Regions from separate parts of the Homo sapiens genome. Here all the other regions are linked to region 1. The links come from fine-mapping of genetic effects on gene expression. A gene starts in region 1. Each other region holds a variant in brackets. All regions are shown on one strand. Distances are from middle to middle. Region 1 holds the start of CASC8 (cancer susceptibility 8). Region 2 overlaps CASC8 (cancer susceptibility 8). Region 3 overlaps CASC8 (cancer susceptibility 8).

The links.
Region 2: its variant is fine-mapped to the expression of CASC8 in blood mononuclear cells (TOPMed, PIP above 0.99). The same link has a PIP of 0.9 or more in T cells, monocytes and whole blood.
Region 3: its variant is fine-mapped to the expression of CASC8 in whole blood (TOPMed, PIP 0.95).

The regions. Positions count from the first base shown.
Region 1 is chr8:127,478,974-127,484,509 of GRCh38, reverse strand. CASC8 (cancer susceptibility 8) reads left to right here and starts at 2,371. Exons shown (of 6, transcript NR_117100.1): 1 at 2,371-2,876; 2 at 3,439-3,782; 3 at 4,704-4,806; 4 at 5,340-5,427.
Region 2 is chr8:127,431,993-127,437,528 of GRCh38, reverse strand. All of the region lies in intron 4 of CASC8 (cancer susceptibility 8), which reads left to right. Among named protein-coding and RNA genes, the nearest start is that of POU5F1B, 19 kb to the right of the region's middle. RefSeq lists an enhancer at 4,399-5,313. The variant C/G (reference allele first, on the strand shown) is at 2,227.
Region 3 is chr8:127,456,192-127,461,727 of GRCh38, reverse strand. The region is part of intron 4 of CASC8 (cancer susceptibility 8); the gene reads left to right. Among named protein-coding and RNA genes, the nearest start is that of CASC8, 23 kb to the left of the region's middle. The variant T/G (reference allele first, on the strand shown) is at 3,365.

The DNA.
Region 1 (5,536 bases):
TCTCACCCTTCAAATTGTCTGCGAGCCTAATCTTTCATGGCCTTGTGACAGGGAGCTTGTCTTTAGCTGAACTAAGGAAGAGTCCCACACCACACGCACACAATATAATGACAAAGCCCTCCCCACCAGCACTACTACTACTGCCAAGAACTGTCCTCTAAACAGTGTGACCCAGCTTTGTGGAGAGTTGGCCAGATGGGCGTCACCTGAGCTCAAGGACAATCTCCTCTGCTCTGGTCTTGCCTCATGCCCAAGCTGGATTTGATCCCAGGTCTCTTGACTTCCCTTCTTTCCTCCCTACTTATTCCCATGCTGGATTTGAGCCCAGGTCTCTTGACTTTCTTTCTTTCCTTCCTTTCTTCCTTCCTTCCTTCCTTCATTCCTTCCTTCCTTCCTCCCTCCCTCCCTCCCTCCCTCCCTTCTTTCCTTCCTTCCTTCTTTTCTTCCTCTAATGTCTATTGAGCACATATTAAATGCCAGCTTCCTTCTAGGATTTGGAGTTTTTCAATGAAAAAAAAAGTGGACTCCTGCTTTTGTGATATTTGAATTCTAGTGAGTGGACACAGACAGACTACAAAGCATAAATGTTATAAAGTGGTGAGGGGTGGTTGCTATAGACAAAAAAGTATAAGGGAGTGTAGGGGATATCAGGAGTTCTGGGGGATGATGGGATTGCAATTTCAAATGCAGAGGTTAAGATAGACCTCATTGAAAAGGTGACATTAGAGCAAAGGCTTGATGTCTATGTGAAGAGCATTCTGGACACATGGAGCAGCTGGTGCAGAGGACTGAAAGTGGAACATGGGTTGATTGTGGCTTAGCAATGAGGGGCAGTGCAGACAGAGGTGCAAAGAGGCATCAGGGGGGCCTAGTCATGAGAGGCTCTGCAGGTCATGGTTGGAATTAGATCTGGTGCTGTCCCTCTATGTTGTGGTCAGCAAGATGATTTCACCAGCAGCTTATTCAATATGCTTTCTAAGAAAATCATCATTTAACCAGTTAGTGTGGATTCTCCTGGCCAAATCCTAGTGTGCAAATATGCTGGAAACATTCAATCTTGTTTCCAGCAAGGCTTGGGATAATTTAGAAACTGTTCAATCAACTCAGTAAATATGAATTAAACATTTACAGTTGTATTAAATATTCGAAAGATAGGAACCAAAACAGTCTATCAAGTAATTGTACATATTTGTGCATTTACAAAATGCATATTCATGAGAGCTATGTAAATATATATTTAGTCATTTCCTCTTTCATGTGAAGTGCTATGGCTGAACTACAGATGGTAACTTTCTTGTGTCTGATTATGAAAATGGCACAGTAAAGCATTCTGACATTGTCCTTAGAAAAAGATCATTGTTTGGCCATTACCATGAGTTCAGTGTTCTTGGAACTAGGGAGAAGAAAGTTCTAGAACATGTCTGTTTTTGTGGCAGGCATCTAGGGAGGAAAGGCAGTTATTTCTAAGATACGTGGCTCTCATACTTTTTCCACCAAGGGTCACAAAAAGGAGGAGGTTTATGTGTAGGACATGCTGAAGTCCTGTGGGCTCTGTATTCCAGCCACAGTGCCACCCTTTCTTTCTCTGTCAGGAAAGCATAGTGGGAGGGTAGGGAGTGAGCATAATGACATTTTGGGTTAATATTTAATTCATTCTAATTTATTCAAAAACGTGTCTAACTTCTCATGATATCTATTAATACTAACATGACTGGCAACCCCTCACAACTGCCTCTGACAACTCTTGTGGGTCCTTCTGCCACATCTAAGGACTCTCTGGATAAGGAGATGGTGAGAGAACACACATTCTAATTTTGTCTTTGTGTGAAGGTCTTATGTGAAAATCTTTCTGGGAATTAGAGTTTTCTAAAGGAATCTCTATTTCCTAAGGTCCTGATACTCTTACTAGCATTTGCCAGTTAATTCTGTGAGACCCAAATGTGTGCAGGGCCTGGACACTTTATCTCATACTAGGTCTCTTCCTTAACCATCCACTATTCCCCAAATATTTACACAGGTGGACTGCGTAGTTAGACTGATATTTGTGTCAGCCTTGAAAACTCAGGATGACTCTCGAAGCCGACTGCTCATGAAGTATCGTTGCTTGGATCTCCTCTTTTGGAGACTAAGGGAGCTTGACTGTGTGCAAGTTAGCAATAAGGACTGACTACTGGATTAGGTGGACCACGTGAATATCATCTTGTGGTGGCCTTTTGGGATCTTCTGATCTCACTCAGAGTAAAAGCCAAAGTCCTCACTATGACCTAGAAAACGCTTTGTGATCTGTGCCCCCAGGTCTATGACTTCACCTCTAACTAATCCCCCTCACTTGCTTAACCTCCTTCCTCAATGGCCTCTCTGCTAGCTCCTTGAACCACCCCAGGCCCTTTGCACCTGCTATTCCCTCTCCTCAGCATGCTCTGCCCCAGACAATTGCAATGCTAACTTCTTACTTCCTTCAGGTTTCACTCAGAAATGACTTTCTCAGTGGGGTCTCCCATGACCATTTTATTTAAGATTTCAACTACTTTGCCAGTATTTCACTTCTCCTCCCTTGATCTTTTCTTCCAAGCACTCACTGCCCTCTTGCACACTGTATCTTTTACTTATTTATCTTGTTCAGTTTCTGCCTGCCTCACCTGCCTCACCACAGTGTACATTTCACGAGGGCAGGGATTTTGTCTGTTTTGTTGATTGCTGTAGCCCTGGCATCTTGGGCAGTGCCAGCACCTGTTAGCATTAAATACATATTTACTGAATGAATGAGTGGCTTCATGCTTAAAAGCAAGAAGAGAGACCTTCATAGAGAAGTAGGAAAATGAATTGTTGCACAAATAAAGGGCCATGTAATGAGAGAGAGAGAGCAAGAGAAAGAGGTGAGATGCTGATAGATTTTCCAAAAACATTCCAGTTCCTACTTCCCATCTTTCATGAACCAAGATTTTTACTTCCTATCCATGGGCTATCCCTAAAAATTCCATTTTCTTAGGCTACTGTAATAGGGCTTGTCTTTATTGCTACCAAAAATCTCTAAGCAAAAAAAAAAAAAAATAGAGTCAAACTAGAAGATGCTAATTGTTTTCTCAACATCCAGCATGTCTTTGGAGAATGGGGTTCTCATGTAGCAAACAGTTTTGTGGGTTCTCTTCCGTGTTTCCTTTCTTGGATAACTAGGTCACAGACAGCTGGTGTTTCCCATGTGGCAAAGGGAGCATGCAGAGAAATCCCCGCCTCCTCTCTCTTTGCTTTTCAAGCCCTGCTGAATGCCTCCTAATGATTTCATCTGCTCGGAGGTCTGCTGGCTTTTCCACTCTCGTAGAAGCTGGTGGCGCCGGGGGCTGATGCATGCTCTGACTACTGACTTGAAACATGCTTTGATGAATTAGTGCAACTCGGCCAGCCATTTACTTTAAATTTTACCCTTGATTCTTCCTCTAGCAAACAATTAAGGAGCAGCAGTGGCTTCCTGCAGGGGAGACCAATGCCTTCTGTCCTCAGCGGAAACAGCTTGGCATTCTTCCAATTGATGAATGGCATGGACCAGGAGCACTAGTTATCTTCAGCTTCTGAGCATCCGAATAAATAAACATACAAATGCATAACATAAAATAAATTCAAATTACAAATGAGAAAACCAATCTAGGTTACCGGCAAGTCCTATGACTTGATGTGGAGGCCTGGAAGTGCATCCTTGAATCTTGCAATGCAGTGAGCCAAGGAGCAATGAGAGGCCACATGAATAACCGGGCCAGTGACAAGACACATGTCCTCCTCCTTGCTGGGTGAGTAGCCCAGTCCAACCCCAAAAGCTCCTGAGTAAGAGGAAAATGTCTCTTTAACAGTATTAAGGGATAATTTATTATGTGTATCCTTCCAGGGAAGCACAATGTCAGTAAAGGCCCATTGCATTTGCATTATTTCCAGACAACAGCAGCAGCAGAAAGGGACACTGATTTATTTCAGAGCAAGCACAGGTGAATGTAGTGTCTGTTGGGAATGAGCCAGGGAGCACTTAACCCGTTCTGAGTCTTTCTAATGCTTTAGGGGGAACCATAGGTTTTTGGAATAGTTCTATTGGCTTCTTTGGTCAAATTCAGTGTCCCTGAGCCTGTGCTTCTCAATCGCTTGGTAATAAAAGCTCTTACAGGGTGGAGGTCAGCGAAAAAAATATGTTTAAAAACAGAAAATCTGGTTTTATGCCGTGGCCACGTTAATTTCTTTCCGTGTGACCTGGGCAAATAATTTAATCCTTTTACGACTCAGTTATCTCTTTTGAAAAATGAGTGTAATAATGCTCCCTGCAGGATTTTAATGAAAATCAACTAAGCAAATGTATTAATGAGTGACATATAATGAATTGTATAAATGACATTGTTTTGGTGTGACATCAATTTGGGATTCCTGGGACACAAACAGAAGTTTAGGTATTATCTTCAGGTATGGTGTCTTGGCTAGCTTAGCTAGCAGAGAGCTTTTTTCTCAGAGGAATCATTCAGTGGGAGGTAAAACAGTCACTCTTTGAATTCTGGAATTAGAGAGTTATGAAATTCAAAAGGTCATGGTAGAAAGTGTCTTGGAGACATCTCTTCCGAGCTTCTGTTTTGGCAGAGGGAAAAACTGAAGCTTAGGGAAGCAAAGTAAACTGTAAACATCTCGGAGGGTGAGGTCAATCTTAATTATCTTTGGTTGTTGTTTCTTATCAGTATACACCAGAATGCCCCGCATGCAGCGAATGCTCAAAAAGTGTTGGTGGAAGTGACAGAATTCCATCACCATTAAACACAACCAGTGTTGCGGTTGACAATGGTAGGTTGGAGTATTTTCTCTTCTGATCCAGATTAGATCAGAATTTGATACTATTTTAATATTAAGCCTTGAAAAGAATGTGTTTACTGGTCAACTGAGGCATCTTGGAAAGGGACATGACCCCTATAGAGCCAGAAACATCCTGGTAAATCCTCTAGTTTCAACTTCTGACAGAAAGTCCTTGAAGTCTTAAAGAACAATTCCTTTTATTAAACCTTCATACAATTTTAACTTACACAGTAGCACACAATTACAAAATGTTACCCAATACATTACCTTATTTAATTCTCCTAATGATCTGGTGAAGTAGGCATTATTATTTCCATTTCTCAGAGTAAGAAATTGAGGCTCTGAGAGTCTGAGTGATGACCCAAGGATGTATAGGCACCGTCAGGACTGGAACTTGAACCCAGAACTCTTGATTTAAGTGTATTTCATTAACACTACCTTGTAAAGTACCAAGTAGATATCCCTTGCTCCTGTTTCTTCCTTCCTCCTTTTTCTCTCCCCTTCTCTCCCTTGTTCCTCTCTAGGCACTGAAGCAGGTGAAAAATCCGTACAGCAGCTTCTGTCTTTGAAGAGTTTGCAGCCTCTTGAAGAGGGTTTAGAGGTTAAAAAAAGGTAATTCTAAATGCAGAGGATCTTTATTACGCACTAACCCTGATTGAACACAGCCCAAAAGGGTTAACTGACCTGCCTGGGAGATGGGAAAGAGAGATACACCACAGTC
Region 2 (5,536 bases), 47 kb after region 1:
CTCCTGAATAACTCCTGGGCAAACATCAAAATTAAGGCAAAAATAAAATATTATTTGAAATTTTTCACGCATGTCTGTGTGAAGAGACCACCAAACAGGCTTTGTGTGAGCAACATGGCTGTTTATTTCACCTGGGTGCAGGCAGGCTGAGTCCGAAAAGAGAGTCAGCGAAGGGAGATAAGGTTGGGGCCGTTTTATAGGATTTGGGTAGGTAAAGAAAATTACAGTCAAAGGGGGTTTGTTCTCTGGCGGGCAGGAGTGGGGGTCACAAGGTGCTCAGTGGGGGTGGTTTTTGAGCCAGGATGAGCCAGGAAAAGGACTTTCACAAGGTAATGTCATCACTTAAGGCAAGGACCGGCCATTTTCACTTCTTTTGTGGTGGAATGTCATCAGTTAAGGTGGGGCAGGGCATATTCACTTCTTTCGTGATTCTTCAGTTACTTCAGGCCATCTGGGCGTATATGTGCAAGTCACAGGGGATGGGATGGCTTGGCTTGGGCTCAGAGGCCTGACATTCCTGCCTTCTTATATTAATAAGAAAAATAAAACAAAATGGTGTTGAAGTGTTGGGGTGGCTAAAATTTTTGGGGGGTGATATGGACAGAGAATGGGCGATGTTTCTCAGGGCTGCTTCAAGCAGGATTAGGGGCAGCGTGGGAACCTAGAGTGGGAGAGACTAAGCTGAAGGGAGGTCTTGTGGTAAGGGGTGATATTGTGGGGATGTTAGAAGAAACGTTTGTCGTATAGAATGATTGGTGATGGCCTGAATACGGTTTTGGATGAATTGAGAAACTAAATGGAATAACAGAAGGAGAAAAACAGGTATAAAAGGTCTAAGAATTGGGACAACTCAGGATATCCGATTAGAGAGTGCCTAAGGAGATTCAGCATAGTCCTGCCAGCAAAGATTATTTATTTACTTCAAGAGTTAAGAGTGGCAGTTTGGGGATAGCACCAGGAGATATCAGCTGTGATGGCTTGGAAAAACAGTGTAAACCGGCAGTGTAAACAAGAGCAGGGCATGTATGAGTAGTTGAGAACAGTGAATAGGAGTATGACTAGACAGAAGATAGTAGGGATGACAAGTTTTTTTGGGGGCACAGTCTAAGTTGGTCTGGTGTCTGGAATGAGACTGGGGCCTAATAAAAAGGAGCGTCTATACAGGAGCTTAAATGGGCTGTACCCTGTAGCATTCCGAGGACAGGCCAGAATTCTGAGAAGGGAAAGTGGTAAAAGTATTGTCCAGTCCTTTTTGGTGGCTGAGCTTGGTGAGGTGTGTTTTTAAAAGACCTTTAGTCCATTCTACTTTTCTTGAAGACGGAGGACCGTAAGAGATATAAAGGTTTCACTGAATACTAAGAGCCTGAAAAACTGCTTGGCTGATTTGACTAATAAAGGCTCATCTGTTATCACACTGTATTGAGGTGGGAAGGCTTAACCGAGGAATTATGTCTGACAGAACGGAAGAAATGACTGCGGTGGCCTTCTCAGACCCTGTAGGAAAGGACTTTACCTATCCAGTGAAAGTATCTACCTAGACTAAGAGGTATTTTAGTTATCTGACTCAGGGCATGTTGAGTAAAGCTAATTTGCCAGTCCTGGGTGGGGCAAATCCTCGAGCTTGATGTGTAGGGAAGGGAGGGGGCCTGAATAATCCCTAAGGAGTAGTAGAATAGCAGATGGAACACTGAGAAGTTATTTCCTTGAGGATAGATTTCCACGATGGAAAGGAAATGAGAGGTTCTAAGAGGCAGGCTAGTGGCTTGTACTATAGCATAGCCTGCCTTTGCTGGTGTGTGGCGATTAGGCCTGGTGGAACCGCCATCAATAAATCAAGCGTGATCAGGGTGAGGAACAGGAAAGAAGGAAATTTGGGGAAATGGGGTGAATGTCAGGTGGATCAGAGAGATACTGTCATGGGGGTCAGGTGTGGTATCAGGAATAATGTGGGAGGCCGGACTGAAGTCTGGGCCAGGAACAACGGTAATTGTGGGAGACTCAACAAAGAGTGAGTACAGCTGAAGGAGCCGGGAAGCAGAAAGTATATGCGTCAGGTATGAGGAAGAAAATAGATTTTGGAAGTTATGAGAACTGTAGAGAGTGAGTTGAGCATAGTTTGTGATTTTGAGGGCCTCTAAAAGTATTAAAGCAGCGGCAGCCGCTGCATGAAGATATGAGGGCTAGGCTAAAACAGTAAGGTCAAGTTGTTTGGACAGAAAGGCTATA[C/G]GGTGTGGTCCTGGTTGTTGTGTAAGAATTCTGACCACGTTAACCATGCCTAGGAAGGAAAGGAGTTGTTGTTTTGTAGAAGGTGCTTGGGTTTGAGAGATCAGTCGGACACGATTGGCAGGGAGAGCACATGTGTTTTTATGAGAATTATGCCGAGATAGGTAACAGATGAGGATAAAATTTGGGCTTGACTGAAGTAATGGGGGCTGTCTGTGAAGTCTTGCAGCAGTACAGCCTAGGTAATTTGCTGAGCCTAATGGGTCTCAGGGTCAGTCTAAGTGAAAGCAAAGAGAGGCTGGGACGAGGGGTGCAGGGGAATAGTGAAAAAAGCATCTTTAAGATCAAGCACGGAATAGTGAGTTGTGGAGGAAGGTATTGAGGACAAAAGAGGGTACGGGTTGGGCACCACAGGGGGGATAGGCAAAACAATTTGGTTGATAAGGCGCAGATCCTGAACTAACTTGTAAGGCTTGTCTGGTTTTAGGACAGGTAAAATGGGGGAATTGTAAGGAGAGTTTATAGGTTTTAAAAGGCCATGCTGTAGCAGGTGAGTGATAACAGGCTTTAATCTTTTTAAAGCGTGCTGCGGGATGGGATATTGGCGTTGAGTGGGGTAAGGGTGATTAGGTTTTAATGAGATGGTAAGGGGTCACCAAGGAGGGAGTAGAGGTATCTTATACTTGTGGGTTAGGGTCGGGGGATACAAGAGGAGGACGCAAGGAGGCTTTGGATTGGGAAGAAGGGCGGCAATGAGATATAGCTGTAGTCCAGGAATAGTCAGGGAAGCAGATAATTTAGTTAAAGTGTCTCAGCCTAATAAGGGAACTGGGCAGGTGGGGATAACTAAAAAGGAGTGCTTAAAAGAGTATTGTCTAAGTTGGCACCAGAGTTGGGGAGTTTTAAGAGGTTTAGAAGCCTGGCCGTCAATACCCACAACAGTTATGGAGGCAAGGGAAACAGGCCCTTGAAAAGAAGGTAATGTGGAGTGGGTAGCCTCCATATTGATTAAGAAGGGGACGGGCTTACCTTCCACTGTGAGAGTAACCCAAAGCTTGGCGTCCGTGATGGTCTAGGGGGCTTCCGAGGCAATCAGGCAGTGTCAGTCTTCAGCTGCTAAGCCGAGAAGATCTGGGAAGGAGTCAGTCAGAGAGCCTTGGACCAGCGTTCTAGGGGCTCTGGGAGTGGCTGCCAGGTGAGTTGAACAGTCCAATTTTCAGTGGGGTCCCACACAGATGGGACACGGCTTAGGAGGAATCCCAGGCTGCGGGCATTCCTTGGCCCAGTGGCCAGATTTCCGGCACATGTAGCAAGCTCCTGGGGGAGGAGGTTCTGGAGGAACGCCTGGCCGCTGCGGTTCAGGCGTTTGGAAGTTCTTGTGTGCTGCAGATGTGGCTGGGGTTTGTCTCACAGTGGAGGCAAGTAATTGCAACTTTTTTCTATTATTGTACACCTTGAAGGCGAGGTTAATTAAATCCTGTCATGGGGTTTGAGGGCCGGAATTTAATTTTTGGAGTTTTATTTAATGTCGGGAGCAGAATGGGTAATAAAGTGCATTTTGAGAATAAGACGGCCTTTTGACCTTTTAGGGTCTAGGGCTGTAAAGTATCTCAGTATTGCTGCTAAACAAGTCATGAACTGGGCTGGATTTTTATATTTGATGAAAAAGAGCCTAAACGCTATCTGATTTGGGATAAAGAAAAAGGAGCATTAACCTTGACTATGCCTTTAGCTCCAGCCACCTTTCTAAGAGTAAATTGCTGGGCAGGTGAGGGAGGGCTAGTCACGGAAAGAAACTGTAAGCCGGACCAGGTGTGAGGAGCGGAGGCGATAAAAAGATTATAGGGTGGAGGAGCGGAGGCTGAGGAAGAATTGGGACCTAGCTCGGCCTGGCGAGGAGGTGAGAGGTCAGATGGGTCTGTAGAAAAGGAAGATTAGAAAGACTCAGCGATGCTTGGGGTTGGGACTGAGGGGACAGGCGGGAGGGAAAGAAGGAAGATTTGGGACGAGTTGTACTGGGCACAGAGACTAGGAAGGGACTGATGTGTAAAAGAATGCCTGGACGTCAGGCGCCTCGGACTGTTTGCCTATTTTACAACAAGAATTATTTAGATCTTGCAGGATGGAAAAATTCAAAGTGCCATTTTCTGGCTATTTGGAACTACTGTCGAGTTTGTATTGGGGTCAAGTGGCATTGCAGAAGAAAATAAGGCATTTAGGTTTTAGGTCAGGTGTGAGTTGAAGAGGTTTTAAGTTTTTGAGAACACAGGCCAAGGGAGTAGAAGGAGGAATGGAGGGTGGAAGGTTGCCTATACTGAAGGAAGCAAGCCTAGAGAAAAGAGAGAGTAGAGAAATGGAGGGAAGGGGTTCGGGGGTTCTTACCTTCCAGAAAAGGGGTGGGGTGCAGAGATAAGAGGTTGGGGTGTGGAAATAAGGGATTGGGGCACAGAGATATAAGAGGTTGGGGCACGGAAATAAGGGATTGGGGTGCAGAGATACGAGGTTGGGGCATGGAAATAAGGGATTGGGACACAGAGATAAGAGGTCGGGGTGCGGAAATAAGCAACTGGGGGGTTCTTGCCCCCCAGGAAAGCAGGACTTGCCGCTAAGGGTGAAGGAGAAGGGGTTGAGGGGTACTTGCCCCTGCCCCAGAAAAGCAGAGAAGGGGTTGGGGTACTTGCCCCTTCCCCAGAAAAGCGGGACTTGCCGCTAAGGGTGAAGGACCAAGGCAGGCGTCCCTGCGTGTGGTCTGACACCCTTGAAACGTGAGTGTATAATCAGAGAGGCGTCCCTGCAAGGATTAAACACCAAGGGAAGGCTGCCTTCCCAGTCCGTGACCGGAGCCGGAGTTTTGGGTCCACGGATAAAACGTGTCTCCTTTGTCGCTACCAGAAAATGAAAGGAATTGAAATTAAGGGAGACATTGAAGTGTGGCACCAAGATTGAAAGGAGAAAGAGGTTGAGGGATAGTGAGGGAGGTTGGAGAAGAGAGTAAAAAGAGGCTGCTTACCGGATTTGAAATTGGTGAGATGTTTCTTGGGCTGGTTGGTCTGAGGACCTGAGGTCGTAGGTGGATGTTTCTCATGGAGCAAAGAACAGGAGGACAGGGGATTGATCTCCCAAAGGAGGTCCCCCGAGCCGAGCCACAGCACCAAATTTCATGCGCGTCCGTGTGAAGAGACCACCAAACAGGCTTTGTGTGAGCAACATGGCTGTTTATTTCACCTGGGTGCAGGCGGGCTGAGTCCAAAAAGAGAGTCAGCGAAGGGAGATAAGGGTGGGGCCGTTTTATAGGATTTGGGTAGGTAAAGGA
Region 3 (5,536 bases), 23 kb after region 1:
GCTCCTCCCCTGGCAGCATCTGCAGGAGTATAATCAGGGCAGGCAGTCATCTCTGGGTGCACTTAAATTACTGGCTCTCTGTGGATACATCATTCACATCAAATTCTGTGTACAGATCTTTTGATTATATATAAAACAGACTGTCATAACTATTTCTATGGCAAGTTGCTGTTTTATTGATGCAATTATTATTATTATAATAATTATTATTATTTTGAGACTGAGTCTTGCTCTGTTGCCCAAGCTAGAGTGCAGTGGCATGATCTCAGCTCACTGCAACCTCTGCCTCTCAGATTCAAGCGATTCTCCCACCTCAGCCTCCTAAGTAGCTGGGATTACAGGCGCCCACCACCGTGCCTGGCTAACTTTTGTATTTTTAGTAGAGACAAGGTTTCACCATCTTGGCCAGGCTGGTCTCAAACTCCTCACTTCGTGATCCACCTGCCTCGGCCTCCCAAAGTGCTAGGATTACAGGCGTGAGCCACTGTGCCCAGCCTGATGCAATTTTTTTAATGCCTTCTACAAAACTACTTAGGGCAAACTGCTCTCCTGTGAACAAGGCCAAGGCCATGGTGGGAGGGGTTCCACGGCTGTTCCTCTCCCATCCCCACCCCATATACTGAGAGAGCCCTTTCTCCATGCTTTCTTTTTCTGCTTCGCTATCAAACATTCTTCCAGCAGCAATTGAAGGGACAGACAATAGTAAGTTTTTTGGAACTTTTTTCTGAATAATATATATTATATATGCATTTTTCTGGCTATATAAGTCATGCACTTTCTTATATAAGAAAGCTTGGAAAAAATTGAGAAAAATATAAAGAACAAAATATAAATTAATTCTAGTTCCACTGTAGAGAAATAAACAGTGCTGGATTTTTTCATGACAAGCTTTTCTGATGACCTCAATGTCTTACTTTATGCTCTTAATATAATCTAGGACTTCATGTGTTCATGGATACTCAGAAAATCGCTACTCAATTAGCCATAGATAATTATTAGGACAAATACAGGCTTTACCTTTGGTCTTCAAATAATGTTAAGTGGAATGTAATTCATAACCCATGGTAAAACTTCCTAAACCTTTGTTTCTATTACTCTCCTACCTTTCCATACCCAAAATCTATATGATAGCTTCTGGATTCTCCAACCTACCCCAAATTATCCTCACCTCTTTATAAGTCTCCCATAACCCTTTCTTACCCTATTTTAAGCTTCTTTTAAATATAGTAAGGAAGAGTTTCTCTGGCCTTCTTTTTTTCCTCAAATTTTATTTTAGATTCAGGAGGTACATGTGAAGGTTTGTAACTTGGGTATATTGCATGATGCTGAGATTTGGGGTGCAGCTAATTCCACCATCCAGGTACTGAGCATAGTACTCAATAGTTTTTCAACTCTTTCCCCTCTAGCTCCCTCCATCCCCCATCTAGTAGTCCCCAGTTTCTATTGCTGCCATCTTTATGTCCATAAGTATCTGGTCTCCTTTTAAATTTGCTTTCTTCTTTGCTCATTATCTAGAATTTCCATAATAGAGGAGAACCTGAAACCACACCCAATAAGAAAGAATTTTATCTAAAGTTTTACTACCTTTGCATTCCAGTCTTTCTCTACCCATTCTCCTAATCTTGTCTCGTGAAATCATGGCTGCTGAGAATGAGATTTCTTTTGGAGGACAATGAAAAGGATGGGAGGACAGAAGCTACACAGAAGGGAGAAAGGAAAACAGAGCAACTGAAGACAAAAATTACTTTAGAAGGTGTAAGCACATACAAACAGGGCTGAGGTTATATGTTTCACTTTGAATGAATCTCATTTACCGAGATACCAGGAGCATTTTACTTAAGTCTTTGAGAACACGAGTTTTACTGGCTATATCATACTCTGTTGTAGAAATACACTGTAAAGTACTTTCACTATCCTCTTTTATTGGACATTTAGATCTAAATGAATTTTGTGCTAATATGAATATTGTATGATGAATATCTTTGACTATATTTTGTGCATTTTGTTATAGGCATGTATCTTGAAAACGGCAGAGGGAAGATTTTGCTTTGTTACCCATTTTGATAGGCCTTGCCTTTGGCCAGACATGTTACTGATGTTTTGGTATTGAACTGATGTATGTCTTCATTTATTTGTTTTTATTTATTTTTATTTTTTTGAATTTTTAAACTGTTTACTTGAACTATAGCAAATACGCAGAAAAGTGAACAAATCTTAAGTGAACAAGTCACTAAATTATGACAAACTGACCACAACCCAGGTCAAAGAAACAGAACATTGCTACCACTCTGGGAGCGCCTATATCACCCCATATCCAGCCCCTCCCCTCTCCCCAAAGGTAGCCAAGTTTGCTTGTCTTTTTTTTTTTTTTTGGATTCCATATAAATCAAATCATAACTTAGGCATTTTCAAGTGTCTAGTTTCTTTTGTTCTACATTATATCTTTGAGATTCATCCATACTGTTATATATAGTAGTAGTTTGTTTTCATTATTATGTAGCATTCCATTGTACAAATATACCAAAACTTGTTTATCCATCTACTATTGTTGAACTAGAACTATTGTTGTTACTGGATTGGGGCTATCATAACTAATACTGCTATAAACTTTTCTGTACATGTCTTTTGGTCCACATGTGCACACATTTCTGAGGATATATACCTAGAACTGCTGGGTCATAGTATTATATTAAATTTCAGTAGATAATACCAAATAGTTTTCTAAAATACTTGTGCCAGTTTACACTTTGACCAGAAGTATGACAGTTTTCATTGTTCCACATTCTGGCCCATACTTGGAATTTCTAATCTTTCACGTCTAAGTCAATTTTTGGAATGTGTAATAGTGTTTTTATTTTTCATCCCCAATTACTAATGAAATTCTCAATGAAACCCCTTTTCAAATATTATTTGGACATTTGGATGAATGTTCTCATTTATGGGCCGCATTTAAGAATGAAGCAAACACAAAATCCTCTGGTATTTTTCGGTGGAGGGGCCCTTAAAAATGGGATGATCTTTTATTCTCTATTCTCTGTGACAATATGGGGATATAAGTCACTCTATTCCTTCAAGCTACAGACAAAATGACAGTAGAAAGGAAGAAAACGGAGCCTTGCAAAAGATACATAACAAATTTTCACCACTTGGCAATCCACACTGAGCCTAGAACTTCCTCCGTAATTTGTAAAACCACATGAATTTCAGGAGAGACTACTCTATTTTTGAGTCATTGGTACTTAACAAATAAAGATATGGTGTTGTAAGAGTTCAATAAGCTTTACAATCTTTTAAATGCTCTTCACTTAGAAGGAAAGATGTGTTGAAACTAGTCGGTGGGTTGCAGAAGAGGAGAAGAGAAAGG[T/G]GGAGCCAGCGGAAGAGGATGTGGGTTTTTGCCACCCTGAAATTCAGCTGAGATCTGCAAAAAACTCAAGCAGGAAAATTGAAGTTAGGGGGTAATCTTTGAAAGAAACAAACAACCTGGGGTCCTTCAAAATTTAAATGTACTCAAGCAGACAAATGGGATAAATCAGGAGAGCAAATGCTGGTCCAATGTCCTAGAGCTTTAAAAAAATCATGTGGAAGAGCATCTCCATTCCTCCCCCACCCCCAACTCCTTTTCATTCATAATTTCTTCATTTATTTATTCAACATGTAATTATTGAAGGGGGCTTTGTTCCAGGCTCTATTTTAGGAGCTGAGATTCCGCCATGAACATATCTGAGAAGGTTCCTCTTCTTGAGGAGCTTTTATTACGATAGAGAAGACAGGTAAATCAGTAAATAAATAAAATCTTTCCAGCAGTTAAAAGTGGATAAACATAATGAAACAGAGTAATGGGCTGAGTGTAGAGTTAGCTAGGGAATAAGGCCTGAGAAGGGGACATCTGGGCTGAGAGGCTGCATGATAGAGCCAACCATTGGAAGACCTGAGTAGAAATAGAATTTCTGGCTGAGAGAAAAAGAAGAGAAAATGTTCCGAGAGGGTGTTTTAGTTGTCTATTGTTGTATAATATGTTACTCCAAAATTGCATGGTTTAAAGCAATATTTTTTATCTCACAGTTTCTATGGGTCAGGAATCTGGGCCTGGCTTAGCTGAGTCTTCTGTCTCAGGGTCTCTCACAAGCTGTCATTAAAGTGTTGGCCAGGGATGTAGTCCTGTTATGGTTGGACTGGGGATAGAAGAGCTTCCAAGCTCACTCACATGATTGATGGCACAATTCAGTTTCTCCCAAGCTGTTAGACTGAGGGCTTCACTTCCTTGCTGGCTGTTGGCTGGAGGCCACTCTTAGTTCCTAGCAAGTAAACCTTCTCACAGGGCAGCTCACAACATGGAAACTTGCTTCATCTGAGTGAGAAAGTGAGAAGGAGAGAGAGAGAGAGAGAGAGAGAGCCAATAAGATGGAAGTTACAGTCTTTTGCAACCTAATCGTGGATGTGACATCCCATCACCTTTGCCATATTCTGTTCTTTAAAGGCAAAGCACTAGGTCCAGCCTACACAAAGGATGTGAATATGGAGAGGTGGGAATCACTGTGGGTGGGGTGGCCCTCTTAGGAGCCTGAATGCCAAAGAGAGGGGAAGCCTGGAATATCAAAGGCACAGGCAGAAGGTCAGAGAGGCTTGTAGATAAGGGGATAGTGGTGCAAGATCTGGTCAAAGAGAAAAATGGGGGCCAGATCATGTAAGGCCTGATTGGCCAAGGTAAGACATGATAGAAAGTTACTGGTAGGTTTTGGGAAAAGAAGTAAATACATTTGGTTCAAATTCTCAACAGATCGTTCAGACTGTCACATGCATATAGCAAGTAGGAGGGCCAGGGTAAGGAGGGGAAAGAAGCCAGTTAGAGGCTGCTCTGGCTGTTCATTTCAAGGTGGTGGTGGTTTGTCTCATGGTGGTGACCATAAAAAGAGAGTGACAGTGGCCGGGCGCAGTGGCTCAAGCCTGTAATCCCAGCACTTTGGGAGGCCAAGGCGGGTGGATCAGGAGGTCAGGAGATCAAAACCATCGTGGCTAATACGGTGAAACCCCATCTCTACTAAAAATACAAAAAAAGCTGGGCGTGGTGGTGGGTGCCTGTAGTCCTAGCTACTCGGGAGGCCGAGGCAGGAGAATGGCGTGAACCCGGGAGGCGGAGCTTGCAGTGAGCCGAGATCGCGCCACTCCACTCCAGCCTAGGTGACAGAGCAAGACTCCGTCTCAAAAAAAAAAAAAAAAAAAAAAAAAAAAGGAGTGACAGAGTGGGATCTATTTTGGAGGAAGAGTTAGCAGAGTTTGCTGGTGGCTTAGATGAGGGTAATGAAGGAAAGCAAAATCAGCTGGTCATTATTTTGATTGCTTTTTATTGTATCTTGTGTTTATTGAAAACCTGAAAGCATGTGAGAGCTAGAAGAATCCTTGGGAATTATTTAATACAGTTTCCTTGTCATACTGATGGGGAAGCTGCAAGCCACTTCATCTTTCTAGTCCTCAGCTTCCAGTTTTGTAATAGGAGAAGCTGGGCTAGATTTTCTGTGAGCATTAAGGAATACTCTCT